Regions from separate parts of the Homo sapiens genome. Here region 2 is linked to region 1. Evidence: fine-mapped expression QTL. A gene starts in region 1. The other region holds a variant in brackets. All regions are shown on one strand. Distances are from middle to middle.

Region 1 (15,335 bases):
AGCTGGACACACTATTAGCATGCATACGGCACTTTTAACCTACTTGCTAAGAATCTGATCTCCTAACCCTCAGTGGCCTCTCATTTCTCTTTTCTCAGCAGCCCTTTGGTTCCTGTGCCTGGGAGGAGTTAGGTGACTGGTTGATCAGTTCAGTTCTGCAGCCCTGACCTCAGCTCCAGTTTCAGAAGAGCAGAGGGAGGGTGCAGGGAGTCTCCAGCTGAGAGGAGCTCAGTGGTTTTCTGATTCTGACTTGAGCACAGTTACAGACAACTTTCCTGTGAGTGCAGTTGATTGCATGCTCACACTGATATTGCAACAGCTGAACACGTGTGTGCACTTGTGTTGAGCTTCAGAGCTCAACCTCAAGTCGGCTTGTCCTCTTATGACAGCTGTAGGAGATGGCTCACCAAGGAGAGACAGAGAGAGATAAAACCAGCATAGCACCAGCTTCCCATATCAAGACCCAGTGCACAGGGAGCCAGGGATCCCTGGGTTCTGAGCTATGGCTACCACTTGTATGGTCTTGGGCAAGCCCCTTACCCTGTAGAGGTTGCAGCTGCCTCATCTGTCAGGGGAGGGGCTGTACCTTTGAGATTCCTTCCAAATCTGACCATCTAGCCAGGACAGGCATTTTCAAGAAACCCTGTTTGTTATTTTCTTCTTTTGATCTAAGTAACCGCAGGTGAGTATTTGTTTTGTTAAAGAAAGGTTTGGGGCTGTCACCACGCTGCCGCTTCCACATTCTACCTTTTCTAGGTAGCAAGAGGCAGACGCTGGGCTTTGTGCCTATTTGGTCTGGTCTGTTTCTCCAAGAAGGGCAGCTGGAGTCGATGCTGGGCTGAAATGTTCTTTTTTTTCCTTTTTTCGAGACAGGGTCTTGCTCTGTCACCCAGGCTGGAGTGCAGTGGCGCCATCTCTGCTCACTGCAACCTCCACCTCCCGGGTTCAAGCAATTCTTTTGCCTCAGCCTCCTGAGTAGCTGGGATTACAGGCGCGCGCCATCACGCCTGGCTAATTTTTGTATTTGTAGTAGAGACAGGGTTTCACCATGTTGGGCAGGCTGGTCTTGAGCTACTGACCTCGTGATCCACCCGCGTCAGCCTCCCAGTGCTGGGATTGCAGGCATGAGCCACCGCGCCTGGCCTGCACAGCTAATTTTTAAATATTTTTTTTGTAGAGATAGGATCTCACTATGTTGCCCAGGCTGGTGCTGAACTCCTGGGCTCAGGCAATCCTCCCACCTCAGCCTCCCAAAGCACTGGGATTACAGGTGTGAGCTACCAGGCCTGCCCTGCCAAGCTGAAATGTTAGCCTCACACTTTTTTTTTTTTTTTTTTTGAGACGCAGTCTCCTTCTGTGGCCCCAGGCTGGAGTGCAGTGGCGCAATCTGGACTCGCTTCAACCTCCGCTTCACTGGTTCAAGCGATTCTCCTGCCTCAGCCTCCCGAGTAGCTGGGATTACAGGCGTGTGCCACCACGCCTGGCTAATTTTTGTATTTTTAGTAGAAACGGGGTTTCACCATGTTGGCCAGGATGGTCTCAAACTCCTGACCTCAGGTGATACATCTGCCTCGGCCTCCCAAAGTGCTGGGATTACAGGCGTGGGCCACTGCACCCAGCCCGCACATTCTTTTTACACCAACTTTAGGATGCAGAATGTGTAGTCCCAGGTGGAGTGAGCTCAAAGCCAAAAGAAGAGCAGGACCAACAAGGAAGAGAATGAAGGCAGAAGTGAACAGGTAGAACCAAGCTTACAAGGTCTGGTATTTGATAGAAACAACAAAAAATAGAACAGACTCTCCCAATTTCTTCAAACTAGTCTGTAAACATAAATAGAGTCTTGGGCCCCTCATTTCTCCAATGCCAGATGCCTGGGCAGCAGGGCTGGAACCAGAGTGAGGCAGGTGAGGCAATTGCATGACACTGAGAGTAAGAACTGTTCTTTTTTTTGAGATGGTGTCCTGCTCTGTTGCCAGGCTGGAGTGCAGTGGCCTGATATCAGCTCAGTGCAAACTCCGCCTCCCGGGTTCAAGCGATTCTCCTGGCTCAGCCTCCCGAGTAGCTGGGACTACAGGTGCGTGCCACCATGCCCAGCTAATTTTTGTATTTTTAGTAAAGATGGGGTTGGCCAGGATGGTCTCGATCTCTTGACCTCGTGATCCGCCCATCTTGGCCTCCCAAAGTGCTGGGATTACAGGTGTGAGCCACTGTGCGTGGCTGAGAATGAGAACTTAAAGTTGACATTCTGGGTGCCCCACTCACTTCGCCTTATCCCCAACACATTGGGCCGTGTAAACATCATCTTTCATTTTAGTCTTAACTTGAAAAATAGATTAATAGGCTACAAACTGGACTGGAGTCTGCATCCATTTGAACAACTCTTCTTTATTGGCAGCCCAGAGTGGAGGACGAAATTAACAATGAGGAATTCACACTCAGCAAAAAGCAAAATATGAAAGCCTGATTGCGGATTTCCTAATGGACAAGATTATTTTCCTCTACAGAGAGCCTTAGGTTGCCAGAGGAACCATCTGCAGGGCCCCAAAGCATTTAGGATCAGACTATTCTGTCGACGTTAGCCTAGCCCACTGATCTGGAGCAGGATGTGACATTCTCCGCTGGTGGTTTTGGCTTCAATCCACCGAAGCCACATGTCGAGGACTAAAAGAGGGATCGGGCCCATGTGTGGCTGATTGGGCCCTATCTTCTGGAGAGAGCTGGTACTCATTAAGAACAGCCAAGATTCTCATCTTCCTGTCCCAAAATCAGAGACCTTTCTTAGCTCTTTCAGGTCACCTGAGATACTGGTTTGCCTCCCAAACCCTGCTGCCTCAGGAATGCTGTGCTGCAGGGCTGTGTCTGTCAGTTTCCACCTGCAGGCTCCCTCACTCCTTCCTGCACTAAGCTAATCATTGCATGTGTTACAAGGGTGGAAATGGCACATCTGGGCTGAAACCAGGACAGCAACATGAACAAAATGAAAAGTCCAAAGGGACAAGCTCACCTAAAAATTACTTGTCCCCGTACTTCCCCCACCCTTCTCCTTTCTCCCTTAGACCCAAGTTGCAGAAGAAGAGCTTCAATGTGATAGAAATACCTGGCTTTGCCCCTTGCCTTCCAGGGATGTTTAGAGAAAACCGCTGAGACCCTTGGATGTTGTGTTGTCTGCTGGGATTCTCCCAAGGGCTGCATCCATAGTGTGGAAATGGATAGGGTGCTACAAGGCTATTTCCACAAAGCACGTGTGGTATTTGCATGTGATTTCCCTATGCACACTGTGCAACCCCTCCCCAGACCATTTTTCAAGTTAAAAACATTTTTATGGCTCTCTTGGTGCAGTCACTTCTGGATTTTTCCTCCTATCTGAGCTGCCTTCTCCCTCGGGCACTCTCCCTGGCCCAGATCTTTGGCGAGGGAGCCAAGTGGAGCCAGGGAAGAACCATAGAGGAATGCAGGACTCAGCCCCTCTAGAGTCGGCTGCTCCGAGGGTCTAGCTGCTTATCTCGCCTTTGCCCAGGGCACTGGCTGAGATTCTATTTCCAAAATTGTTCACACTAGGTGATTACACTGTAGACTGTGGGACTGTAGCTCAATTCACAAAAAGTCTCTTTGATCTAGAAGTTTCTAAACTGCCTTCTATCCGTTTCTCTTCTGTCTCTGGTCAACATTCTTTTAAAAATGAGTCTTGGCTGGGTGTGGTGGCTCACGCCTTTAATCCCACCACTTTGGGAGACCAAGGCGAGCGGATCACCTGTGGTCAGGAGTTGGAGACCAGCCTGGACAACATGGTGAAACTCCATCTCTACTAAAAATACAAAAGTTAGCCGGGCGTGGTGGCGGGCGCCTGTAGTCCCAGTTACTCAGGACGCTGAGGCAGGAGAATCACTTGAACCCGGAAGGTGGAGGTTGCAGTGAGCCGAGATCACACCATTGCACTCCAACCTAGGCAGCAGAGTGAGGCTCTGTCTCAAAAACAAAACAAAACAAAAGAGTCTTGATTCACTTATTGCATCTTTGCAATAACCATTGGAGACTGGGCTATTTTCAGAGGAGGAAACGGAGACCGTTTCTAAGGGCTTAAGTCAAAGTTACATAGCTGCTTAGGGGTTTGATTTGTCCAACTCAAAGTCTAGTGCTCTTTCTGTGCCTCATTCTCTTCGACTGTAAAATCGGGGTGTAAATAGCATGTATTTGATAGGGTTGTTGGGAGGGTTGAATGCTTTAATACGTGTGAAGTGTTTAAAACAGCCTGGCACATAGAGTGTTCCATAAATATCCACTAATTTTATTGTGCTATGCCTTGTTTTTCTTTACTATTCTAAGCATTGGACTCATGACTCCTTCGTGGGAGGAGGAACCAACTTCTAGGCTTGGGGAGTATTATTCAAGATGGAGAAGCTGGCTTCCCAGGGTCAGGCCAAGGTGGGACCAGAAGAGACACCCCATAAGCAACAGGACTGGGCTGCTTGACTAAGCCACATCCCTGCCTGGCCCTGGCTAAGCAGAAGAAACTCTCAGACATGGATAAACCCACAAAGGGAAGGGATGTCCCGTTTACAAAATGCCGAGGGCAGGAAGAACCAAGGCTTCTGAACAGAGCCGAGGAGCATAAGGCAACATTTTACTCTGTGATGTGTCGAAGGCCTTGTGTTTTGAGGTGGTTCTAGATTCTTATTTGCATTTTACCTTTACCCAGCAGTTACAAGGTAGGGCCTGTGTGTGCTGAAAGGAGTATGGAGGAGGACACCAGTTCCCTCCCACAGGGATGACTGAAAGCCCTGGAGTAGTTAGGACCAGGGACTCTGCCAGAGAGCTCTGGTGCTTGGGAGAAGCTGCCGGGGCAGGGACTTGCCCTGTAACCCAAGCCTTCGTTAGCAGCAGCCAATATAAATGACAGGGATGTGTTCCCACCATCCTGAGGACCCTGGAGGAAACCAAGGCACTTAGCATCAGGTCTGTTGGCTGCTGCTGAAAAGACGGCAATGAAAAATACGAAATGTGCCGGGCGCGGTGGCTCACGCCTGTAATCCCAGCGCTTTGGGGGGCGGAGGTCAGGAATTGGAGACCAGTCTGGCCAGCATGGTGAAACCCCATCTCTACTAAAAGTAGAAAAATTAGCCGGGTGTGGTGGCACATGCCCGTAGTCTCAGCTACTCGGGAGGCTGAGGCAGGAGAATCCCTTGAACCCAGGAGGCGGAGGTTGCAGTGAGCTGAGATCACGCCACTGCACTCCAGCCTGGGCGACAGAGGGAGACTCCGTCTCAAAACACAGAAAAACAAAAACAAAATATAACCAGGAAAGACCTAGACTCCGTAAAATAGCTTTACAAACCTAATCAAGGGAACCAGACACCCCAAACTGTACTTCGAACACTGTTGAAAAGTTGTGAAAGTCATGTTCTAGCAGTTGAAATGTTTGCTGATCAGTCCACTCTCTCAGGAAAAAAAACACCAGACCCACAAAGAAAATAGAAGGTTTAAAACACAAATGTCTGTAATTAAGCAATGGAATGACGTCTTCCGCCGGCCCAAGCTTCCCACTGTTGTGTGTGTTTTTATCAACAGGAGCTCCCGGTTCTGCCTGGCCCGGTTCGCTTTCGCCTGCGTTGACTCTCTTGGCACTCAGGCCTTTCCAAAGTTTCCGGGGTCCCGTTTCCACGATACAGACAGAGGCTGGATGTCTTGATCTTATCCTCAGTCGATGTTCTCCTAACTTTAGGGCTACAAGGAGCCTTAAACAGCATGTATAGAGTTGGGAGCGCTTTGAATAGACGCACGTGAGAGGGAGGCGGCATCTTCCTAGCCGGTCACCAGCATTAACACGGGGCAGGAGACATGCGAATGCACCGTGGGACCCCTCTCCCTACCCCCCTGCATGAGATTTCCGAAGACCTCCGCCGGCCGACGCTGAGGGGCGGGGTTGGGAAGGCTTCCTCCAGGCGCGGGAGCAGCGGAGCGGGGACCGCCCGCTTTGGGACGCCCAGGACAATGGCGAGCGAGCTCCCGGCCAGTCCTCGCGGACCGCGGGAGGGGGCGGCTCCCTGCGCGGTAATCCGAGCCGGGATAAACAGGCGCGGAGGGGCGACGCGTCCCGGCCGGGTGCAGCGCTCGTCTCCTGGGGTCCCAGCTCCGGCCGGTCCCGCCCCGCCCCGCCGCGGGCACCCGGCCGCGCCCCCGTCCCCGTCGCGAGTCCCCGCCCACGCCCACGCCCCCGCCGCGAGGCCCTGGGCCGCGTCCACGCGCGCCGAGTCCAGCCGCGGCTCCCCGCGCGAGGCACGCGCCGCCGGCTCCTGCTGCAGTCCCGCGCTCATTGGCTGCTCCGGCGCGGGCGCTCCCGCCCCGCCTCGCCATTGGCTGGGGCCGCCGCGGTCCCCGCGCGGAGCGGCCGCTGACATCACGCGGCCTGAGGCGGCGGCGGCGCCCCCGGCCCAGACCCGCAGCCCCCTTGGCAGAGGCGCCGCCGCGGTGCCCGGCGGAGGATGGTGCGCGGCGCGCCGGGGGCTCCCCGCCGCCAGAGCCGCAGCGCCGCAGCGGAGCCGGCCGCGGCGGGCAGTCGGCCCCCGCACCGGGCGCGGGGCGGGCGGCCGCGGTGAAGCGCGGAGGGCGGCGCGGGCACCGGGGCCGGGCCGGGGCTGCAGCCGCAGCGGCCATGGGGGCCCTGACGAGCCGGCAGCACGCGGGCGTGGAGGAGGTGGACATCCCGTCTAATTCCGTGTACCGCTACCCGCCCAAGTCCGGTGAGGGCGGGCGGGCGCCGCAGCCGCGAGGAGGGAGAGGGGCAGGGGCAGGGGTCTGGGTCGGGACGGCCTGAGGGGGCCCCGCGGGTCTTCGGGGACTCAGTGGTTGCGGACGCTCCGAAACGGTCTTCGAGCGCGGGAGGTCTTCGAGAAGGCCGAGGTCTCCCCCGCCCCGGGCGAATTAGCCCAAGGGGCGTCCTGCCGGGTCTAGCAGGGTCACCGAGGGCACCGAGCCCCTCCACGGGAGGACGGGAGCGGCCTCCATTGTAATCGGCCCCGTGACGGGGACGCGTGCCCGCAGGGACCGAGGCTCCTGGGGAGCGGGGCTGCGGCGTCGTAGGCGAGGTCGGCGCCCCGCACGGACCCGGCCGGCCCGGCCCAAAGCCTACCTGCCTCGCGGGGTCCGAGGGCCGCGAGGGAGGCGACCTCGGCATCCAAACAGGCACTTGCGCCAGGTGCTATCCCTGCGCTGCCGTCTCCTGGCCTCTGGAAAGGTTAGAATTAGGTTTCTCCTGGAAAAGCTTCCATTGCCTGCTGAAGGATGGAAGCCAAACAGGCATTTGCAGTGCTGGTGCTTTTGCAGAGGCTGTCAGAAGCCGGGGGGTGGGGGGGGTGGTGGTGGTGGAAAGTAACAGAAATGTTTGGGAATCTGAGTATCAGAGTTACTCGGATTGCCCCTTTGCTAGCGTAGTGGCAAGCCTGGGTTTTGGAGTGGGACCAGCTCTGGGACAGGGCAGAGGTATTGGAAACGTATAGAAGTATGTTTGTTATTAGAATCATCCCTTCACTTAAATGTCTCTAGCCTCTGGATTGTGGTATCAGCATTGGAGGTGGAGGAGGATTTTGACAGCAAAGCAGAGAATCACAAGGTAGTTCAGTTATGTGAGCACCGGCCAGTATGAATTGCATGACCTAGCCGGTGTTTACTTTTAATTGCAAGTAGTTTTATTTTAATTAATTACTTTTAATTTTATTCTCAAGACTTCTGAGGATGAATGGCTGCGACATTCTGTCTGCTTAGGACCCGATGGAGATTTTGGTGATTTCGGAATGAGGTGTCAGAATTGGAGCAGAGCCTCGTCTCTTTTTGGTAGAATAGAGACATACTGAGATGAGCTGGTTTCTCAGCAGTGTGTCCAGTGTCTGCCAGGTGAAAGCAGGGGCCAGACGATGAACCTGCCCGCATCCCTGCAGAGTGTCTGCCAGAGCTGTGTTTCTCACTGCTTTTGTACCAAAGAATGAATCCTTGCAAAGATGAATATGGTGAAGAATTGTTTTAGAAAGGTCTAAGATAAAGCTGTGGGTCGTTAGTATTTTAATAAAGCTCTGACTGATTATGACTACATAAAATCAACGCTAACCAAGGCATAGATTTTGTTTTTTAATAGACAAAAATATTCTTAGGGCGGCATGAGGAAAACTTTTTAAAATAGACAAAAATATGCAGCAGTATTTGTGGGCTCTGTTTTTCTTAAACCACATGGCTTTTATTGATCAAAATATGGAGCATACTTTGCTGAGCTTGGAATTTTCAATAGTGTTTGCTGCCTCAGGAAAGTATTCACCGCTCTTTCATATGTGGGACTTAACATAGGTAAACCTCTGGAAGGCTGTTCCCCAAAGCATATTTGTACAAGTATGAATCTTGGGTGATGATAATAAAAAGACAATAGACCAAACCAAAACTTTTGTTAATTAGCACACTCAATAAATAATCCTCTCCTCTCTACCAGTTTTAAAAGTTTAACTGTAAAACTGTAATTCATGTTAAATCAGAAGTTATACATGAGAGAAGTCTTTATAGCAAGTGGACCACATTATTTCTGTTGAAGCTAAAACATAGAAAATAGAATCAGAACATCCTGTCTCTGTCAGCAAACCTTTGTGTATTTGAAACCTTATGTGAGCTTGCATATATGCTCTAGACGGAGGCATCGCCTTTCTTCTGATCTTTGAATTGACCTGGCTCTTTATGGGATTACAGTATTAGTCCTGAAAGGAACCGTTGACAGAGTTTGGCCATGACCACCATGCCTAGCTAATGTTTAATTTTTTTTTTTTTTTTTTGAGTCATCGTCTCTCTCTGTCACGCCCAGGCTGGAATGAAGTGGTGCAATATTGGCTTACTGCAACCTCTGCCTCTAGGGTTCAAGCAATTCTCCCGCCTCAGTCTCCCAAGTAGCTGGGATTACAGGTGTTTGCCACCACACCCGGCTAATTGTTTGTATTTTTAGTGGAGATGGGGTTTCACCATATTGGCCAGGCAAGTCTTGAACTCCTGACCTCTCAGGTGATCCGCCTGCCTCGGCCTCCCAAAGTGCTGGGATTACGGGTGTGAGCTACCACGCCCAGGCAAGTTTTTTGTAGAGACACTCTCTCACTATGTTGCCCAGGCTGGTCTTGAACTCGTGGTCTCAAGCAATCCTCCCGCCTTGGCCTCCCATTCATTTCACTGATAAGAAAATGGAGACCCAGAGAAATGAATTGGTATGGCCAGGGTCTCTCAGCCAGTTAGTGTTCTTCCTACTATACTGTCTGCCTCCACCTCTCAAGGAATTGGGTTTTGAACTTGTACTCAAAAAACAAGACTTAAAACAATCATTCCATGATTATGGAATGAAGGCTATTTCGTGTCATAATTGAAGTCCCTATAGAGGAATCAACCTGGGTTGATTTTGAGAAGTCTCCTTATCCTGAGTACTAACAGTGGAACAAAGCAAGTGGCAGAGTCAGCTTTCTCCAGATGACATACCTTGTAGTTTGAGTGTTAAGTTGAGACCACTATCTGGCTCGCTGGAAAGCGGCTAGACCTGCACTGCCGGTGGAACAGTTGTTTCGGAAAGAAGCACCATCATCTGTCCTTGTAATGACGGTCACAGTGTCCAGCTGAAATTGCTTTTTTCTTAGTATATTTAATGGAACTTCTTAGTTTTGTATGCACATTGAAACAAACATTTAAATCCTATCAAGAATGGCAGATTTCAAGTTGAGACTTGGGTTTGTAGCTTTTTTCTATCCTTAAATAGAGGTAGATAGAAATAAATAGCCTAAATTATTTAGAATTATTTATTTTTGAATAGGTAATATAGTCACACGGTTCAAACTTTAAAAGAATGAAAACGTGTACAGTGAAAGCCTTGTTCTCACCGCTGTTGTCCATCCACCTGGTTCTCCTTCCTCCCTCTAAACCTCCCATCCCATGTAACCACTTTTGGTTTCTTTGGAATTCTTTTAGAGTTTCTTGTGTAAATGCAAGCATAGCATGCTATTAGACTGTTCTACACCTTGCTCTGTTTGCTTTCAGAGATATTGGAGATCTTTTTATATTGTCTCATATTTGATAAGTTTCTTTGTGCTTTTTAACAACTATATAGTATTCCTCTGCATGCATATGCCATCTTTTTTTTTACATAGTCTCCTGTTGATAAACATCTGTGAGTTGTTTTTTCAGTATCTTACTATTGCAAACAGTGCAACAATGAATAATGTTATGCATTAGGTGATTTTTAGATTTATTAATAATTGTGTGAATATTAATCATTTAAGTAATAGAAAGTATGGTGGGAGTTTCTGTATAGCATTTCTACATTAGCATAGAAAGCAATTTAGAGCACGGTTCTACTGTATTTGGATGTACTTTTGTAATTTTTGAGTTAGAAGTCATACATGCTTCTCTAAGATCTTTGCATCTTTAAAAGCCCAAGATCATTTGTTTAGCAAAGAAAGGTATGGCTTTGCGGAGATGGTTGCTTTTATGAAGCTCATCTTTTGACAGAAGTATCCACGTTGATAAAAGTCCACATTGATAAAAGCCTGTTTTCTCTATCCAGGAAGAAATAGGCATAATATAAAGACAGTTTAATTTATATAAAGCAGTACCTCATAAATCTAGTTTGTTTCCCTCCACATACTTGGGCAAGTTGGAAAATAGGAATAATTTGTTTTGCTGAAGTCTTTAAGAAGTAAACCTACTACAGAAATTCAGAATGGTAATCAGAGTCCTGACCAGCTAGCTTGGTTAAACCCGGGTTTTTGCTTTTAAGGCCTTCAACTGACTAGAGGCCCACCCACATAATCAAGGATAATCTCCTTTACTTAAAGTCAACTGATTGTAGATTTTAAAAAATTAAATAATTTATTTTTAGAGACAGGGTCTCACTCTGGCATCCAGGCTGGAGTGCAGTGGTGTTATCAAAGCTCACTGTAACCTCAAAGTCCTGGGCTCAAGCGATCTTCCTGCCTCAGCCTCCTCAGTAGCTGGGATTACAGGCACATACCACCATGCCTGGCTAATGTTTAAAGTTTTTGTAGAGACAGTATCTCACTGTGTTGCCCAGGCTGGTCTTGAACTCCTGGTCTCAAGCAGTCCTCCCACCTCGGGGTCCCAAAGCAGTGGGATTACAGAAGTGATCTACCGTACCCAGCCATAGATGTATCACATCTGTCTACATCATCATTCTCCAAATTTTTGTTATTTTAGAGTACACATATTCTTGTCAAATGGGTCTTTCCTATTGCAAGAACAGTTTTTAAAGGCATGGATAATAAGTCTTTGTCGAATAACTATAAAAGTTTTAATGTAAGTTTCTCCTAGCTTTAGGAGTATCAATTTAATATTAGATTTGAAACCATACACTTAAAAATATGCAATTTACGGCTGGGCGCAGTGGCTCACGCCTGTAATCCCAGCACTTTGGGAGGCCGAGGCGGGCAGATCACGAGGTCAGGAGATCAAGACCATCCTGGCTAACATGGTGAAACCCCGTCTCTACTAAAAATACAAAAAAATTAGCCAGGCATGGTGACAGAAGCCTGTAGTCCCAACTACTCGGGAGGCTGAGGCAGGAGAATGATGTGAACCCAGGAGGCGGAGCTTGCAGTGAGCCGAGATCGTGCCACTGCACTCCAGCCTGGGCGACAGAGCGAGACTCCGTCTCAAAAAAAAAAAAAAAAGTAACCTACTACAAAATAAGGAATTATTTGGTTGGCACAGTTTGACACTTTAAAATATCCAAAACAATTTTGAAAAAGGAACAAAGTTGGAGGACTATCGCTACCCTATTTTAAAAGTTACTATGCATATAATTACTATAATGCCACAGTAATCAAGATAGTGTGGTATTGGCACAATGAAGAGCATATAGATCAGTGGAACAGAGTTATGAACCAGAAATCCTTACATTTATTTTCGGTTGATTTTGACAAAAGTACCGAGACAATTGAATGGGGAAAGGATAGTGGTTTCAACAAATGATGCTGGGATGAGCAAAAAAGAAAATGAACTCAGACCTATTCTTTACATCACCAAAATTAACTCAAAATGGATTATAGAGTTAAAAGAGAGAACTCAGAGAATGGGAGAAATTTTTATAAATCATAGGTATGACAAGAATTTGTATCTAGAATATATAAGGAACTCATATGCTCAATAATAAAAAGACAACCCAATTAAAAATGGTCACAGCACTTGAATAGACATTTCTCCAAAAAAGATATACAGTGGACAATAAGCACTTGAAGAGATGATCATTATTAACTTTCAAGGAAATACAAATCAAAACTACAATTAGATACCACTTCACACCCACTAGGATGGCTATAATTTTAAAAAATGATAATGACGAGTACTGGTAAGGATATGGAGAGAGCGAAACCCTCATACCCTGCCGGTGTGAATGTAAAATGGGGCAGCCACTTTGGAAAACGGTTTGACAGTTTCTCAGATGGCTAGTTACTAGATGACTCAGCAGTTCTACTCCTAGGTATACGCTCAAGAAAAATGAAGAAAATACATTCACATAAAAACTTGCACATGAATTACTCATAATAGCTAAAATGTGGAAATAACCCAAATGTTCATCAACCGATGAATAGAACTACTGATAAATAAAATATGGTAAGTCTGCACAATAGAATATTATTTGGCAATAAAAAGGAATGAAGATTTGATATGTGCTACAACCTGGATGAACCTTGAAAATGTTATACTCAGTGAAATAAGCCAGGTGCAAAAGGCCATCTATTGAATAATCTCATTTATAAGAAATGCCCAGAAGAGGCAAATCCACAGAGACAGAAAGTAGATTAGTGGCAGTGGCGCAGTGGCTGTGCCTGCGGCTGCCAGAGGCTGAGGAGAGGGAGAAATGAGCTGTGACTGCTAATGGATTTCTTTTTGGGATAATGGCAGTGTTCTAAAATTAGATAGTGGTGAATAGTTGTATAACACGGTCAATATACTAAAAACCATTGGATTGTACACACTAAATAGGTGAATTCTGTGGTATATAAATTGTATCTCCACAAAGCTATTTTCAAAATGGGGCTGGGTATGGTGACTCATGCCTGTAATCCCAGCACTTTGGGAGGCCAAGGCTGAAGGATGGCTTAAGCCCAGGAGTTCAAGAGCAGCCTGGGCAACAGAGTGAGACCCTGTCTCTACAAAAATTGTTTTTAAAAATTACCTGGGCATGGTGGCATGATATCAGCTACTCGGCAGGTTGAGGCAGAAGGATTGCTTTGCCTAGGATTTCAAGGCTGCAGTGAGCTATGATTGTGCCACTGCGCTTCAGCCTGGGTGACAGATTGAGACCCTGTCACTAATAAAAAAATAAAAATGGATCATAGACATAAATGCAAAAACAATGAAACCCCTAAAAGAAGACATAGGAGAAAAATGTTATTTGATTTGGATTGGGCGAAGAGTTCTTAGATGTGACACCAAAAGCAAAATCCATACAAGTAAAAAATAATAATAAATTGGATTTCTTCGAAATTAAAAACATTACCACCTCAAAAGACAGTAAAAAGTTGAAAAGACAAGCCACTTTCTGAAAGAAAATATTTGCAAATCACATAAAGGATGTGTATCAATATTAAGAACTCTTACAACTCAATATTATGGAGACAAACCATCCAATTAAAAAATGTGCAAGAGGCCAGGCACGGTGGCTCACGCCTGTAATCCCAGCACTTTGGGAGGCTGAGGCAGGTGGGTCATGAGGTCAGGAGATCGAGACCATCCTGGCTAACATGGTGAAACCCTGTCTCTGCTAAAAATACAAAAAATTAGCTGGGCGTGGTGGCCGGTACCTGTAGTCACAGCTACTCAGGAGGCTGAGACAGGAGAATCACTTGAACCCAGGAGGCAGAGGTTGCAGTGAGCGGAGACTGGGCCACTGCACTCCATCCTGGGTGACAGAGCAAGACTGTGTCTCAAAAAAAAAAAATATGCGAGATTTCAATAGATACTTCACTGAAAAAGATGTAGGAATGGCTGATGAACACATGGAAAGATACTCAACATCAGCAGCCATTAGGGAAATATAATTAAAACTGCAATGAGATACCATTTCACACCTATTAGAATTAGGATAACTAAAATAGAAAAGGCAGACAGTGTCAAATGTTGAGAATGCAGAGGAATTGGAATCTTTATGAAGTGTTATGGGAAATGTAAAATAGTACAGCCACTTTGGAAAGTTGGACAGTGTCTTAAACAGTGGAACATAAATTTGCCTTATGATTCAGCAGTTCCACTCCTATGAATCTGTCCAAAAAAATGAAAACATATGTACACTCAAAGACATGGATGCAGATGTTCATAGCGGCATTGCTCATAATAGCCAAGAAACTGGAAATAATCCAAGTGTACATCAGCTGGTGAATGGATAAACAAAATCCATTGTTTATTTCATGGTACAGTCATATAATGAAACACTGCTCAGCAATTTAATTTTTTGTTTGTTTCTTTGCTTTTTTTTTTTAGAGACAGAGTCTTGCTCTAAGTGCTCAGGCTGGAGTGCAGTGGTGCGATCATAGCTCCCTGCAGCGTCGACCTACTGGGCTCAGGCACTCCTCCAGCCTCAGCCTCCCAAGTAGCTGGGACTACAGGCACATGCCACCACTCCCATCTAATTTTTTAAATTTATGTTTTGTAAAGACGGGGTCCCACTACGTTGCCCTGGCTGGTCTCGAACTCCTAGTCTTGAGCCATCCTTCAGCCTCGGCCTCTCAAAGTGCAGGAATTACAGGCATGAGACAACACGCCTGGCCATGTTCAACAATTTAAAGGGATAAACTACTGATACATGCTATACAACATGATTTAACTTCAAAAACATTATGCTAAGGGAAAGAAACTAGATGCAAGACTATATATCGTATGAGTTTGTTTATATGAAATGGCTAGAAGAAGCACATTTATAGAGATAGAAAGCAGAATAGTGTTTGCCTAAGGCTGGTAATAAGAGTAGGAATTAACTGTAAATGGGCATGATGGAACATTTTGGGGTAATGGAAATGTTTTCAGCTGGATTGTGATGATGGTTGCCAAAATCATTGAATTGTTCAATGGATGAATTTTATGCCATGTTTATTATACTTCAATAAAGCTCTTAAAAATAACAGCACAGAGGGGTTTGTGCCTTTTGGATAAAATAAAGACAAGAGCTTGATGATTGAAAGGGTGGGGTTCTTGGTAGCAAAAGGCATTGAAGGTAGACTTTTTTTTTTCTTTTTTAAATAAGTGGAGATGGGGTCTCACTATATTACCCAGGCTGATCTTCTACTCCTGGGCTCAAGCAATCCTTCCACTTTGGG
Region 2 (15,335 bases), 70 kb after region 1:
TCCACAGCCCAAGGCGGGGCTGCTGCCTGTTCCTGGCTTCCACCGGCTCTGTGGAGCATGCAGCCCCTGCAGCACCCCCTTGCAGCCTGGGGCAGGGGCTCCAGGTCCTCACTGGGCCGGGGCCAGGGCCGGGGCCAGTGTCCAGGGCAGGGTGACATCGCCATGAGCTCTGCCTGTTCCCCCGGTGCTTCACGGGCAGTCTGGGACAGAGTGGATCCTGGGCCTGGGCCTGGGCCAGGCCATCTGCCCAGGAGTGTCAGGCTCAGTGGTCACCCCAATGTGGGGCAGACCTGGGGGCGCAGCCCCAGACGGGCTGCGCAGAACCTCCTCCCGAGGCACAGGAACCTGGCACCCTCGGCAGGGTGGGCACAGTGGCTGCGCCAATGGCCAGGTGCCCGAAGCGGAAGCTGCTCCCACTTCCTGCCCGGGGCCCCTGAAGCATGGCCCCAGCTCCGCGCCCAGGCCTGGCCCTGGCGCTCCATGAGCAAGCGGGACACTGGCCAAGGCCCAGCTCCGCCTCGGGGCTCCTCTTTGCCCTACCGCGCTGCTCTTCTGCCACGCTGCTCCTCTGCTGGTGGGTAACCCGGCCAGCCCCATGGGGTGGCCTCCAGGGCGGCAAGCTGTGGAGGGGCTGTCTGTCTGCTCCCTGCGACCCCCCTGCAGCAGCCGTTGTGATGGCAGCGGCTGCTCTGGACAGCCCACCACTGTCATCAATAGTAAGCACTCAATAAATGGTAATTTTTGAAAGGAAGATAACTCACTAAGAAATTTCGAGAGTAATAGTAGGCAAAATCGATTTACAGAAGAATGGGAGACAACTCTAAGAGCAGAAAAAAAATTTTTTTTAATTTGCCTCTGATCCTACTGTCCCCTCCATCTTCTCTGTTATCTCTGAATTTGCAAATTTCATTTATCCTTTAGGATCCCAGATCAACTACCAACTCCTCCATGAAGCCTTCAGATTACCTCAGCCAGAAATGATCACTTCCTTTATTTTTGCCTTTTGTGGCAAAAAAATATCCATATATTTAATCTCTTTGATATTACAATTACTATGTCAGCTGCCTTATAATGCAGCTTCCTGAAAGAGCAGGGCCTTATCTTCTTGGTTTTCAATCTCTCCTTACTCCTGGCATGGAGTGTTGCATGTAGACTCTGATTGCATGAATGCAAGGCCAGCAAGGCACAAACTTTGGTGGGTAGCAGCCCACGAACAAGCTTCTCCTGAACAGATTTGCCGTTGTTGTCTTGTGCGTGTATGTGTGTGTACAGGGAGAGCCTAAAGTATAGGGGTGGATTTATAAACAATTGAACTCATTGATACCTTTCCTTAAGAGCCAAATAGCTTATGTTTCATTGCCACAGTTATCATCAAATATATTCAAAATGGAGGATAAAGAGTGCCAGGATTTTTTTTTCTTTCTTTTTATTTTTCTCTCTTTTGCGGCAGGGAGTGGCTATGGAGGAGAAAGAGTAAAGAATAAGGGAAAAGACGCATCTTTTTTTTGAAATGCAGGTAGGAGTTATGGATAACGCCCAAGTACCTGTACAAATGAAAATGATTAACTTTGCTACTCCAGAAAAAAATTTTAATCCCAAAGTCATTTATTTTGGCTTTAGAATAGACTAGCGTTTGTGTCGGATTTTCCTGCCTAATTACTTTTTGCTTAAGCTTATTTAAAAATTGTTTTAAATTCCTTTAGTATGACAGCCTAGGAAAGTTGGGGGAGGAGAAACAGGCCACAGATGGGATCTGAACTAGAATTTCAGTTTTACCATGTCAAGGCCTCCTGATGCACTGCTTGCAGGAGGGCAAAGTTGGAGTCAGCTTTGTGGAAAACTGTTTGGCAAAATAATTTTTAAAGTCTTAAAAATATGCTTACTCTTTGATCCTGTAATTCCACTTCTAGGAATTTGTCCTTAGGAAATAATCAAACAAGCATGCAGAAATATAGGGACAAGGATATTCACCACAACATTTATAGCTGCGAAAAAAAGTAAAACCAACATAAAATATTGAATAATATGGAATTGATTAAAGTATGCTATTATCTGCAATGTTATCAAAATTATGGACTTTAAAAATGTTTACCACATCTTTTTAGGTGAAAAAGAAACTGCAAAATAGTATGTTCAGTGTGAAACAGCACATAGATATAGAGGTGGACAGGATGGATGGATAGACGGACGGATGGAGATACGTATTCCATAATGTTAATTTTGGTATTGCCGAGTAGTAAAATTAGGGATAGTTTTGTACTTTTTTGTGTTTTTCAAGTTTTCTGCTTAAACATATATTACTTTGTAATTAGAAAAAACTATCATTTTTAAAAGAATGTATGGTTAATATATCAATGAAAAAGTAAATTACTGCATCATGCCCACAAAGTGAGTAATCTGAATGAAGATAATTTCTATTGAATGTAAGAGTCACATTCATACCTGTGAATTATAAGCAATTATACTGCGTACATTAAGTCAGATGCACCTTAACTATGGTTTAACTATATTGTTTCCCAAGTAAAATAACCATATTCAATAAAAACCTGTGAGGGCACAATTTGATTATAACTTGGGTGTCCTGTTTTGTGATACCACACTATGGAGGTAGACTCTTCTTGAGCCAAGAGAACCACAGTTTTGCAAAGCTGCAGAGACCAGTAGGTTTTTTGGGAATTATATGTTAAAACATTTTGATTGCCCAAATAACATTTTAAAAATACCGGGAACATTTGAAATCATTCTTGATCCTCAGAAGGCAATTCCCAGTGAAATTTTTGGCTATTTCCCCTTTCTTTATCTCATCATTATCAACAACTCAGAACTTCAAATCCAAAGGTCTAAACGGGCAAAGGGGGAAGAAGCGGATGGTAAATGATGAAGACAACCATAAACCTTTGGTGACCCCAAAATAACTCTTGGCTCACATGTTAAAGAGCTCTGCTTTATATGATCAGCTGCAGGGGAAGTTTGTTCTTTACTGTTTGCAAACTTCAGCTCTGTACACATGATGGGGCCCTCTTTTATTTGCGGTCCCTAAACTCCTGGGATACCGCATGGCCTCACCGAAGGAAAGGGCTTGCAGGTCTGGTTCCCTGTCGTCTGAGGTCAGATGGAAAAGCCTTTTGTGATTAACTCGGCCACAGTGTGTCCTTTGGTATTTGGAACTTCAGCGGTTTTTTTTTTTATTATTAATTCTCCAGGTTTTGAACACTGACCGAAATAAGCTTCATATAATGGAAAAAGAAGATAAATCTGGCTCTTTGGGCCCCAAATTGCATCCCAGTTTTCCCGCTAGCTGTGACCTTGAGCAGGTTGACTCAGTATGTCGGAGTTTCAGTTTCCTCACTTAATTAGGAGAGTTGTGCCTTCCTGCCTCACCTCTTAGGGCTATTCTTGGCAAACTGTAAAGCGAGGGACAGCTGTGGGTCTTTTTAAACACACCACCTTCTCCTGCTTTGTTTCTGACACAGTTTCCTTACGCCGCCCCACCTCCCCAAGAACCCGTGAAGACTCTGAGAAGCCTGGTCAATATCCGAAAGGACACACTGAGGCTCGTCAAGTAAGTTCCCAGAGGCTGGGGCCAGGTCCCAGGCACCTTCCTTTGGGGAGGCTGGGGGCTGGGGGACAGACTTCCCAAGGAACTCATACAGCAGTTTCCGGCAGCCCCAGAGCTTGCTTCTCTGGGCCTCAGACAGGAGTGCGGGCGCTACTTTCTGCTGAGATCAGGCCGTCCACACCCATGTTGTTCAGCACTGGATGCAATCGTCTGTGTTTGTGAAAAACTTTCGCTTGCCTAGAAATGCTTAGTATCCTTATTTTATGGATATTTTTTAAAAGGGAAGAAGAATTATTAAGGGAAAATGGGAATTTTTGCAGCTACTCCAACAAGCCAATGTAAAAATGGGAAATTTGAACTTAGAATATCAAATCCTTTATTTTATTGCTATATTTTCTTTTTCTTTTCTTTTTTTTTTTGAGACGGAGTCTCGCTCTGTCACCCAGGCTGGAGTGCAGTGGCGCAATCTCGGCTCACTGCACGCTCCATCTCCAGGGTTCACGCCATTCTCCTGCCTCAGCCTCCCGAGTAGCTGGGACTACAGGCGCCCGCCACCACGTCCGGCTAATTTTTTGTATTTTTAATAGAGACGGGGTTTCACCATGTTAGCCAGGATGGTCTCGATCTCCTGACCTCGTGATCCACCTGCCTTGGCCTCCCAAAGTGCTGGGATTACAGGCGTGAGCCACCGCGCCCAGCCTTCTTTTTCTTTTTTATTCCCTATATCATGTGTCTGTTCTCTAAGGAACTCATAGTGCACTGGGTTGGTTGCTTAATCCTCATCATCAATGTTAATTATCGTCATTTGCCTTCTTGGTGCCATCCTTGAGACAGTGTAATTTTTAGTCTGATACATTCCCACTGCCCGCCACCCCTAGATGATATGTCTACCAAGGCTGTCTGATTCTCTGGTGAAAAAATTTGGTTAGGGCAAATCAAGGTCCCAGATTTTTCTGAATAGGCAAGGAAGATGACTCAGAGACCATCTCATGCTTGTATAGAACAGCCTTATTAGCATTACAATGTTTCTGTCTGATATATATATATATATATTTGAGACAGAGTCTCGCCTTTTTTTTTTTTTTTTTTTTTTTTTTGAGATGGAGTTTTGCTCTTGTTGCCCAGGCTGGAGTGCAATGGCACGATCTCGGCTCACTGCGATCTCGGCTCACTGCAACCTCCACCTCCCAGGTTCAAGGGATTCTTCTGCCTTATCCTCCTAAGTAGCTGTGATTACAGGCATGCATCACCACGCCCGGTTAATTTTGTGTTTTTAGTAGAGACAGAGTTTCTCCATGTTGGTCAGGCTGGTCTTGAACTCCCAACCTCAGGTGATCTGCCCGTCTCAGCCTCCCAAAGTGCTGGGATTACAGGCGTGAGCCACCGCACCTGGCCCAGAGTCTCACTTTGTCACCCAGGCTGCAGTACAGTGGCACGATCTCAGCTCACTGCAGCCTTAACTTCCCGGGCTCAAGCAGTCCTCCCAGCCCTAAGTAACCACTAATCTATTTTCTGTTTCTCTCTCTTAATTTTTTATATTTTATTTGTCCCTGAAGTTTCTGCTGGTTCCCCAGCTATGCTTCTCTCCACCCCAGGGTCAACTCTGGGGAGGAGAGATTCAAGGAGGTACCTGTCTGCTGCAGAACAGTCCCCCGACCTGACCCAGGGGAGTTCATCCAGCAGCAGAGCAGACTAACGAGGCCTCTGGGGCCTGCCATTGCCAGCTACTCTGTCCACTTGGTTTCTCTCATCACATATGGCACATTCACACATTTGATGGAGACCATTCAAGGGCCTGAGCTGCTGTGAGGTCATAGCCTCTGCCGTGGCAGCCTGGCTGCAGCTCTAGAATAGGATGAAGCAGCTGTCATGCGCTAGAAGAACCAGACTTGGAAGCAGCAGAGCAGTTTGCCTCCCAGGTCCACAGATGCTTGCTTGAATGAGTGTCTGAGCTTCAGGTTCTTTTATCTGTAAAATGGTGATAATCAACTTTACCTTTCATGGTGGTTGTCAAAATTAAGGTAACAGAAGGGAAAACACCTGGTGTTCAATAAATGTTAACTTGAAGGGTGTTCTTTGTTTTGTTTTTCTGTGATTATGGGAATAAATTCTGATTCTCGGATTTCCAGGTAAAGATGGAGGATTGAACACCTACTTTTGCTTCCTCTGAAAACCCCATTAAGTAATTATAAACATGTATTTAAAAGGCATAAATCTGGCCGGGCATGATGGCTCATGCATGTAATCCCAGCACTTTGGGAGACCAAGGCGGGCGGATCACCGAGGTCAGGAGTTCAAGACCAGCCTGGCCAACATGGTAAAAACCCGTCTCTACTAAAAATACAAAAATTAGCCAGACATGGTGGCACGCATCTGTAATCCTAGCTGCTCCGGAGGCTGAAGCAGGAGAATTGCTTGAACCCAGGAGACAGAGGTTGCAGTGAGCCGAGATTGTACCACTGCACTCCACTCTGGGTGACAGAGTGAGACTCCAACTAAAAAATAAAAAATAAGGCCCGGTGCAGTGGCTCATGCCTGTAATCCCAGCACTTTGGGAGGCCAAGGCGGGCGGATCACGAGGTCAGGAGATCGAGACCATCCTGGCTAACACAGTGAAACCCCGTCTCCACTAAAAATACAAAAAATTAGCCGGGCATGGTGGCAGGCACCTGTAATCCCAGCTATTTGGGAGGCTGAGGCAGGAGAATGATGTGAACCCGGGAGACAGAGGTTGCAGTGAGGCGAGATTGTGCCACTGCACTTCAGCCTGGGCGACAGAGTGAGACTCCATCTCAATAAAATAAATAAATAAAAAATTTTAAAAATTTCTTTAAAAAGGCATAAATCTGTAAATATTTGGAGAATGGGAAGAGAGCAACAGCAACAACATTTTAGAAGCTGGAAACACATAGTGAACGTTAAATGACTTAGTAGACCCAGGAAATCAGAATCCTGAACTAGCAGAAAGAAAAGCTGAGAATCACCCAATTTATACTGTGATATTATCCCCCAAAGGGTTCAGAAATTAGCAGTGCCAGGTCCCTCTAGAAGTTGAGGTGGGAGGCTAAAATGAAGAGGATTGGTAGAAAGTCTGCCTTCAAGGTAGGCAGATCCTCTCCCTTGTACCACACAGCCAGAACTACATTCCTACACCTTGGCCAAAGGCAGGCAGATGACTCTCCCTGGAAAGGTCAAAACAGAGAATCTCTGGACAAGAGAGACCCAGGCACAGCTAATGGCCAGTACTAAAAACAGGCTAACCAGCCTGGGCAATATGGTAAAGCCCTGTCTCTACAAGAAATACAAAAATTAGCCAAGCATGGTAGTGCACACCTGTAGTCCCAGCTACTTGGGAGGCTGAAGTGGGAGGATCACCTGGGCCTAGGGAGGTCAAGGCTGCAATGAGTCACGATCACAGCACTGCACTCCAGCCTGGGCAAGAGTGAGACCCTGTCTCAAAACAAAACAGCAGGTGAGTGGATCCTGGCATACTGGATGTTGAGCCCTCCAGCTGCCTCTCCATTCTGCCCCTAGAATGCTGGCAGCCAGGCCTTTGTCAAGAGAGAGGAAAACTGTTTTCTGGAAATTGGACCTGCCTGGATAGGAAAACCTAAGAGACTAGAGTTAGAGGTTCCTCAACAGATCCAGGTCAGCCCACAGTGAAGCCCAGGATCCCCAAGTCCTGCTGTGCACTCAGAGCTCTAATCAGCAGTTTAAATATCTTAAATACAAGCAGACAGCCACAGATTCTTAGATGTGTAAGGAATGCCTATAATAGGAAAGACAGTAGCAAAACAAACCAACATTTTAAAACAACCTAACTAGGCCAGGTGCGGTGGCTCACGCCTATAATCCCAGCACTTTGGGAAGGTGAGGCGGGTGGATCACTTGAGGTCAGGAGTTCGAGACCAGCCTGGCCAACATGGAGAAACCCCATCTCTACAAAAATACAAAAAAATTAGCTGGGCCTGGTGGCACACGCCTATAATCCCAGCTACTTGGGAGGCTGAGACGGGAGAATCACTTGAATCCAGGAGGCAGAGGTTGCAATGAGCCAAGATCGTGCCATTGCACTCCAGCCTGGGTGACAGATCAAGACTTCATCTCAAAAAAAAAAAAAAAAAACCTAACTAGGCCGGGTGTGGTGGCTCACACCTCTAATCCCAGACCTTTGGGAGGCCAAAACAGGAGGATCACTTAAGCCCAGGAGTTTGAGACCAGCCTGGGCAACATAGTGAGACCCCATCTCTATATAAAATAATAATAAAGTAAAAAAAATCTAATTGGAAACAAAAGCTATGCAGGAAGAAGAAAACTTCATTAATAGTCTCAAAGACATGAGAGAAGTTATCTTTTTCTTTCATGGACACAATGACACAAAGTGTTTATGAAACCAAAAAAATAGCTTTTAGAAATTAAAAACAGGGAGCAGAAATGAAAATTTCAATAGAATGATAGGAAGAAAACTTGAAATATTCTAGAAAGTAGAGCAAAAATCCAGAGAGAAGGAAAATAGAAGAAGAAAGACGCAAGTAATAGAGCACCCATTTAGAAGGTCTGACATCCAACTAACGGGTTCTACAGAGAACAGAGAAT[G/A]TAAAAGGAAGGAAATCATCAGTGACATAGAATTTAAGAAAACTTCTCAGAACCAGAGGGTACAAGTTTCTAAATGGAAAGGACCACCAAGTGCCCACACAGTGGCTGAGAAAGAGGACCGTCTGTAAGCTTTCAGAAGAAGAAGGATCAACAGTTGGAACGACTTCAGACTTCTTGGGAGCAACGCTGGGAGGTGAAAAATAAGGCAGTGAAAAGGCTTTCAGTGTCTTTTAGAAATTATTTATAATCTAGAATACTTTGCTCAGCCAAACTTTCAGTGAAGTGTGAATGTTGAATAATAGCTCTCAAAAGTTTATTTCCCAACACACCCTTTTTCAGGAAGCTGGCAGGACACGTGCTCCACCGATATGAAAGAATAACCCAAGACAGAGGAAGACTTGAGGTGCAGGAAACATGAGCTTCTACAGGAGGACAGAGGCAAAAGGGACCCACCAGGATGTTGGAGGGGGAGAGAGATTCCAGGGTGGCGACTGGGAGCCAGGTGCAGAGGGCCAAGTACAGATGGGAGCAAGTCCAAGGGACCTCCTCAATAAGATGAAATGAATAGACCGCTTGGTGCATCTGAACGTCTTGAGAGATTTAGACAGCCCCAGAGAGCTTGGGTTGGAATTTGTGATGAGTACATAGGAAACTACGCAACTGGAAGAAAAAAAAAAAAATAGGATGAGCACTAAGAAAAAGTTATGCAGGAAAAGAAAAATAATCATAGATTATAAGTTTGTGTAATCACAGTAATACAGACACAAATGTACTGGACTATTATAATAAAATCATGATGCAGCTACACTGGGGGGATGGCGGAGTTCCTACATGGAGCACAGTGAGGAAAGAGAAAGAAATCCTTGTTTCCATAGTAGGAAACCCATAGATAGCGCCTGAAACTGAAAAATCAAGAAGTAGTAACCCAAGTATATTTTTTAGAAACGTGGGTAAATGCCAAAATGATCACTAAAAGGGGTGTCCTCTGAAGACGAGGAAAGGGAAGAAGTAAGGCCTGCTGTTTTTTGCCTTGAGGAAACTATTTAAACTATGTGATTAATAACTTTTATTAAAATAAAAACAAAAGTGCCAAATGCACAATGGTGTAGTGGTAGCACTATGAGATACCAGAAGTAACCTGAATGCCCAGCAACATGGGTCATGAAGCACTCTGTGATCATTCAGAATGAAGAGGTAGACCTATGCTTATGATCATTCAGAGAAGCCCACAATATATTGCTAATTTTTTTAAAGGTAAATTTTAAAATATTGATATGCTACTCTGCAAATGCTGAGTCTCTGGTTTTCTAGATGTGCTGAGGAAGTGAAGAGCCCTGGAGAAGAGGCCAGTAAAGCTAAAGTCCACTACAATGTTGAGTTCACCTTTGACACAGATGCTCGGGTAGCCATCACCATCTATTACCAGGCCACGGAAGAGTTCCAGAATGGTATTGCCAGGTAAGATCAGGAGACCAGGAGAGCCACTTCCTTCCCAGATTATTACCAGGCCACGGAAGAGTTCCAGAATGGTATTACCAGGTAAGATCAGGAGACCAGGCGAGCCACTTCCTTCCCAGATAGGGAGAGTCCATGTCTTATCCACTCAGCAAGGGCGGAAAACATTCTTTTTCTGCAGCCAGATGAGATCTGGTTCCTGAATTTAGACTTTCTTCTACAAAGCCCTACCCTTTACCTTTTCCCTTCAAATTGTGCCATCTTGGTATAGTGACAAATGGTGGTATAGTCCTTCAGGTCCTTAACATGCTGTTAAAAATCTAGTAAGCTACCTTTCTTTGGATGTGTGGGTTGAATAGAAAAGTTTAACGTTGCCAAGCAAGAGCAAAGGAAATGGATTATAAAGGACCCTTTCTTCTCTTCGCTAGACCCTGTTGATAATTGAGAACAGGCATGAGCAGAGGAAGTTGTCAGACCCATCTGTGCCGGATACTGACTTTTGCTTTGCCTCCCACTTGTATCAATAGCTACATTCCCAAAGACAACAGCCTCCAGTCGGAGACTGTGCAGTACAAGCGAGGAGTGTGTCAGCAGTTCTGCCTGCCCTCCCACACCGTGGATCCCTCCGAGTGGGCCGAAGAGGAGGTGAGCTGCCTCTGGGGAGGGTTTCCCACATCCACTCAGAAGGGCCTAGGGGCTACTTAGGACTCGGTCTGACAGCAAAGGGGCTGCTCGGATGCTTGAAGGCCATGCTTACCTTTCAGCCTTGTGACTTCATCATGTCCTTTTAAAGCTCTGCTTATTTTGCATCAAGGATATACCTAACTTTGTTAATTTTTCCATTCCCTAGGAATGGAAATAGCCCATTAGCCTAGGATACTTTGAGAAAGCCATGCTCAAAGAAAAAAAAAATCTATAGGTTAGAGGTTCTTATTTACATCTATGACATTTTTAAAAAGCAGCTGATGGCCCTCAGTTAACAAACTTGGGTAATTAACAAGGCTAAAGAATGAGGAGCAGAGATGAGATTAATGCTTCTTGACAGTATCGCCCTTTCTGAGATTAGCTGTGCCATGTAAATGTGTTAAGTCCTCTTTTTTTTTCCTTTCCTTTTCTTTCCCTTCAGCTTGGCTTTGATTTAGACCGAGAAGTTTACCCTCTAGTGGTACATGCCGTGGTGGATGAAGGAGACGGTAGGGGCGATTTCTGTCCTCTTTGGCTGTGCACACTGCTCTTTTGTGGCATATTCCTGGCAGCAGCTGTGGCCCCAGAACAACATGCCTTCTTTGTGGGTGTTTGTGACTGTGAGTCAGGCAGTCTCTGCATCCTCTCACATCTGTGACTCCAAGCTCCTGGGCTGATGTGAAAAGTGTGGGTTTGGCTGGGCACAGTGGCTCACACGTATAATCCCAGCAGTTTGGGAGGCCGAGGTGGGTGGATCACCTGAGGTCAGGAGTTCGAGACCAGCCTAGGCAACATGGGGAAACCCTGTCTCTACTAAAAATACAAAAATCAGCTGGGTATGGCAGTGTGCACCTCTAATCTCAACTACTTGGGAGGCTGAGGCAGCAGAATCGTTTGAACCTGGGAGGCGGAGGTTGCAGTGAGCCGAGATTGTGCCACTGCACTCCAGCCTGGGTGACAGAGTGAGGCTCAGTCTCAAAAAAATGTGGTTTAGCTGGGCGTAGTGGCTCATCCCTGTAATCCTAGCACTTTGGGAGGCTGAGGCGGGCAGATCACCTGAAGTCAAGAGTTTGAGACCAGCCTGACCAACATAGTGAAACCCCGTCTCTACTAAAAATACAGAAAAGTAACCGGGCATGGTGGCTCATGCGTATAATCCCAGATACTTGGGAGGCTGAGGCAGGAGAATTGCTGGAACCGGGAGGCGGAGGCCACAGTGAGCCAAGATCATGCCACCGCACTCCAGCCCAGGCAACAGAGCCAGACTCTGTCTCAAAAAAAAAAAAGTATGGGTTATATAACGTGCCCCTTCTAGAGACAGACTGGCACATTTGGTTTGCCAGATTGCAGGGAACTGGAGAAAGTCATGGGCATCAAGATGTGCTGTTTGGGCTTCTTCACTCACGTGCCTTTGTTTCTTTCAGAGTATTTTGGCCATTGCCATGTACTGCTGGGTACTTTTGAGAAGGTGAGTGACTTTAGAGGGCCTCGCTTTATTGCCTTTAGCCCTTTCTTTCGTGTGAGACACATGTAACCCGTTTGCTGGGTGCCTGAGCTCAGCAGAATGGGTCTGGCTTTAGAGGCTATAATGGTGAAAGAGGTTGCAGTGAGCTGAGATGGCACCACCGCACTCCAGCCTGGGCGATAGAGTGAGGCTCTGTCTCAAAAAAAATAAATAAATAAAAGAAAGAAAGGCTAGACTGGATAATTATAAGACCTTTAAAGAATTAGGATTGTATAATTCTGCTCTGAGAGTGTCCAGGAACATGTGTACAGTAGTCCCCCCTTATCCTCAGGAGATAAGTTCCAAGACCCCCAGTGGATGCCTGAAACTGCAGATCGTACAGAACCCTCATATACACTGTGGTTTTTCCCATACTACATCCACACCTATGATAAAGTTTAATTCATAAGTTAGGCACAGTAAGAGACTAAGAATAATAGTAAACTAAAACAATTATAACTATAAGGTAATAGAAGTCTGAATGTGATCTTTCTCTCTCAAAATATTGTATGTAATATTTTCAGACAGTGGTTGATGGCGGGTAATTGAAACCATGGAAAATGAAACTGCAGATCAGGGAGGGCGACTGTAACTGGGAGATGTAACAGAAGAATACCTGGTGCTTTATTACCCTCCCTTCCTTGTCATAACTTTCATATTTTCATTCCAGCACACAGATGGAACTTTCTGTGTCAAGCCCCTCAAACAGAAACAAGTAGTAAGTATTTGAAGACCACAGACTGTTAGTATTAGGGTCCTTCCTTCCTTTTATTCTTTCCTTTCTTCTTCTCTCTCCCTCTTTTTTTATTTTTGTTTTACTTTTTGCTCTCTCCTTTTCCTCTTTTTTTTTTTTTAATCAAAGAAGAAAAGAAAAAAAGGGAGTGCTTTTGAATGTTACAAGCTATTACAAACGACTTGGGTGGCCTGAAAGGAATGCTGATTTTTGAGGTCTTCATTGTTCCAGAAGTGTTGGTGTTGAGGGAGCCTTTATCTGAGCAAAGGACTTGAGAAATGAAAGAACAAGATTTATTTCCCAACATTGGGTTTAGGGAGAACTCTTTTTATTTAAAATGCCAGAGTGAGAAACATTTCAAGCGAAAGGATAAAGCATTAGGGTCCAATTTAGTGTAATTAGAGTCATTGGCTTAATTTATCCATTCCTTTTCTAAAATTCAAAGTTAGCCATCCATTCTCCCTCTTCCAGAATGATCAGCACCTTGTGCATATGTCTGCTAGAAAGTCCCAGCCCCTACCATGTGCCAGCACTTTTCTTTCCACTCTTGTAGAGGTAGGAGGAGACATCACTGGGAGGAGAGAGAGTGGTGCCAGTGGCATTGGCAAGGGAGGGTGGGTGAGGGGCAGGTCATCTCACGGAGGGTGTAGAGCAGCTGGGTAGGAGGCAGGGTTGGGCTTCCTCGAGATGCAAAGAAAAGCCTTCCTGTAGATGGGTGATAGATACCTGAAATTCTACACTGTTCGTTCTTTTAGGTTAATTACTCGCCTCTCTTTTAATGAGGTCAATAATAAGAATATCTTAGGATAAATTAGTTTTCCAATATAATCACTGCATGAAAACAAGTTTTAAGAGCAGCAGAGGAGGAAACAGATCCTGGGCTCAGGCCCAGGGCACTACCTGGGCAGGCCAGGCCTTGGTGAGTTGCCTCATGGGGGAAGGCCTGGTTCTCCAGGAGGCCTGGATGGGATGGAAAGGCTCGTGTAGCTAGAGGAAGATGGTTTGTCCATTTTCCTCTTGTTAGATTGGCATTAGCAACAGACTGTTAAAACGGAGAGTGGGATATAAAATCAGCGACAGGCTATGTCTTAGGGGAAGGGATGGCTAAGAAACAGAGGTGAGGCAGAAGAGTGTGCTCCTAAAAGTAAATGGGGCAGGGCCAACTTAGACACTGACATGGCCCAGGTTAATGGGAGTGGGATTGGGCCTTGGTAGTTGGGGTTTTAAGAAACAGGGCTGGCCGGGCTTGATGGCTCATCTCTGTTATCCTAGCAGTTCGGGAGCCTGAGGCAGGTGGATCACTTGAGGTCAGGAGTTTGAGACCAGCCTGGTCAACATGGTGAAACCCCGTCTCTACCACAAAATACAAAAATTAGCCAGGCATGGTGGTGCACACCCTGTAATCGCAGCTACTCAGGAGGCTGAGACAGGAGAATCGCTTGAACCCAGGAGGTGGAGGTTGCAGCGAGCCAAGATGGTGCCACTGCACTCCAGCCTGGATGACAGAGCAAGACCCTATCTCAAAAAAAAAAAAAAAAAAAAGGAAACAGGGCCAAGAGGTGTAATTTTGCTGCATGTTGGGGATGGGGTGGCTTCATGGTGTGGGGTACACACCATTAGCCTCTCCCTCAAGGTCTTGCTATCGCCCTTTGCATCCATATTTTCCCTTCCCATCTTTTTCCTTGCCAACTTCTTCTTCTTTTTCTTTCTCTTTTCCATTCCTTTATTTGTATAATGTCTGAACTCAAATTGGATTATATAGCAAATGCCTAGATTTTAATGCATGCCCTTCCATCCTTTTTCTAGTCTGTGCCTTCTTAATTGTCCATAATAGTATGCTGCAGTGCAAGTATTATTATTGTATTTGTGAAATTTTATGTTCCCTGTTGTATATAATGATGGGTGAATTAAATATTTGATTTTCTTTCTTCTCTCAAAGAGAAAACATAAGTAAATAAAAGCATCTTTTACTTATCCAGGCCTTTGATTTTTTTTCTCATTATGAATCGGTAGTCCTTGGTTACCAAAAGAGGTAAGATTGGAGGGAGTTCCCACTCTTGTCTCTCAGTAGAGACAGCCTGTCCTTGAACCTTTCTGTTTGCTGTTCAGGTAGACGGGGTCAGCTACCTCCTTCAGGAGATCTATGGAATTGAAAACAAGTACAACACACAAGATTCTAAGGTAAGTTTTACCCAAAATTCTGAATGTACTCTTTCCAGGAGGCCAAGTGAGAAATCGTAAGCCAGCGTCCAGAAATTTAGCGTGCCAAACTCTGAAATCAGTTAGGTCTTAGAAGGGTATTTTCTTGTTCCTCATTTCAGATCATTACGCTTTTACCACTTTGGAAATGAGAAAAGTAGGCTGGTTTGGCTTTGTTCTGCCACAGAGCTCTGTCCAACTCGGTTTCCACCAGGGCCCTTTCTTTGCTCCTTTTCCTTTATCTGTGTGATCCCCTAAGTCCCTTCAGCTGAGATTTGAGAGGCCCAGCTCTGGGCCTTATAGGAGGAGCTCGAGTGGTTAGTCTCGTCCTCTCAATTTTAGATAAACACTTCCCAGAAGAAGTGAAGCTAAGTGTGTGGACGCACTGGGAAAATGACAAAGTCCAATGTCAATGCAGATTTTGTTCGTAATTATTACTTATCTTAGCTCTTCAGCCACGCTGCCTTGTCAGTAAAGTATGGGACAGGAAGGGCTTTGTGCCATTGGCTACATTTCTTTCTCCTTGGCCAGGTGGCTGAAGACGAAGTGAGTGATAACAGTGCCGAGTGTGTGGTGTGTCTCTCGGATGTCCGGGACACCTTGAT

Evidence for each region. PIP is the estimated chance that this variant, and not a neighbour inherited with it, causes the effect. A credible set is the group of variants that fine-mapping cannot tell apart.
Region 2: its variant is the best candidate, but not a certain one, in a credible set for the expression of RNF157 in whole blood (INTERVAL, PIP 0.70).

What each region holds. Positions count from the first base shown.
Region 1 is chr17:76,231,555-76,246,889 of GRCh38, reverse strand. It overlaps RNF157 (ring finger protein 157), which reads left to right and starts at 6,397. Exons shown (of 19, transcript NM_052916.3): 1 at 6,397-6,737. The coding sequence starts at 6,650. LOC105371896 (a long non-coding RNA gene) reads left to right here. Exons shown (of 6, transcript XR_007065913.1): 6 at 2,396-6,028. RefSeq lists silencers at 6,223-6,292, 6,313-6,452 and an enhancer at 6,757-7,429.
Region 2 is chr17:76,161,929-76,177,263 of GRCh38, reverse strand. RNF157 (ring finger protein 157) reads left to right here. Exons shown (of 19, transcript NM_052916.3): 3 at 3,474-3,562; 4 at 9,467-9,613; 5 at 10,138-10,255; 6 at 10,737-10,803; 7 at 11,719-11,762; 8 at 12,469-12,516; 9 at 14,641-14,712; 10 at 15,262-15,335. Among named protein-coding and RNA genes, the nearest start is that of FOXJ1, 28 kb to the right of the region's middle. RefSeq lists an enhancer at 9,252-10,451. The variant G/A (reference allele first, on the strand shown) is at 8,156.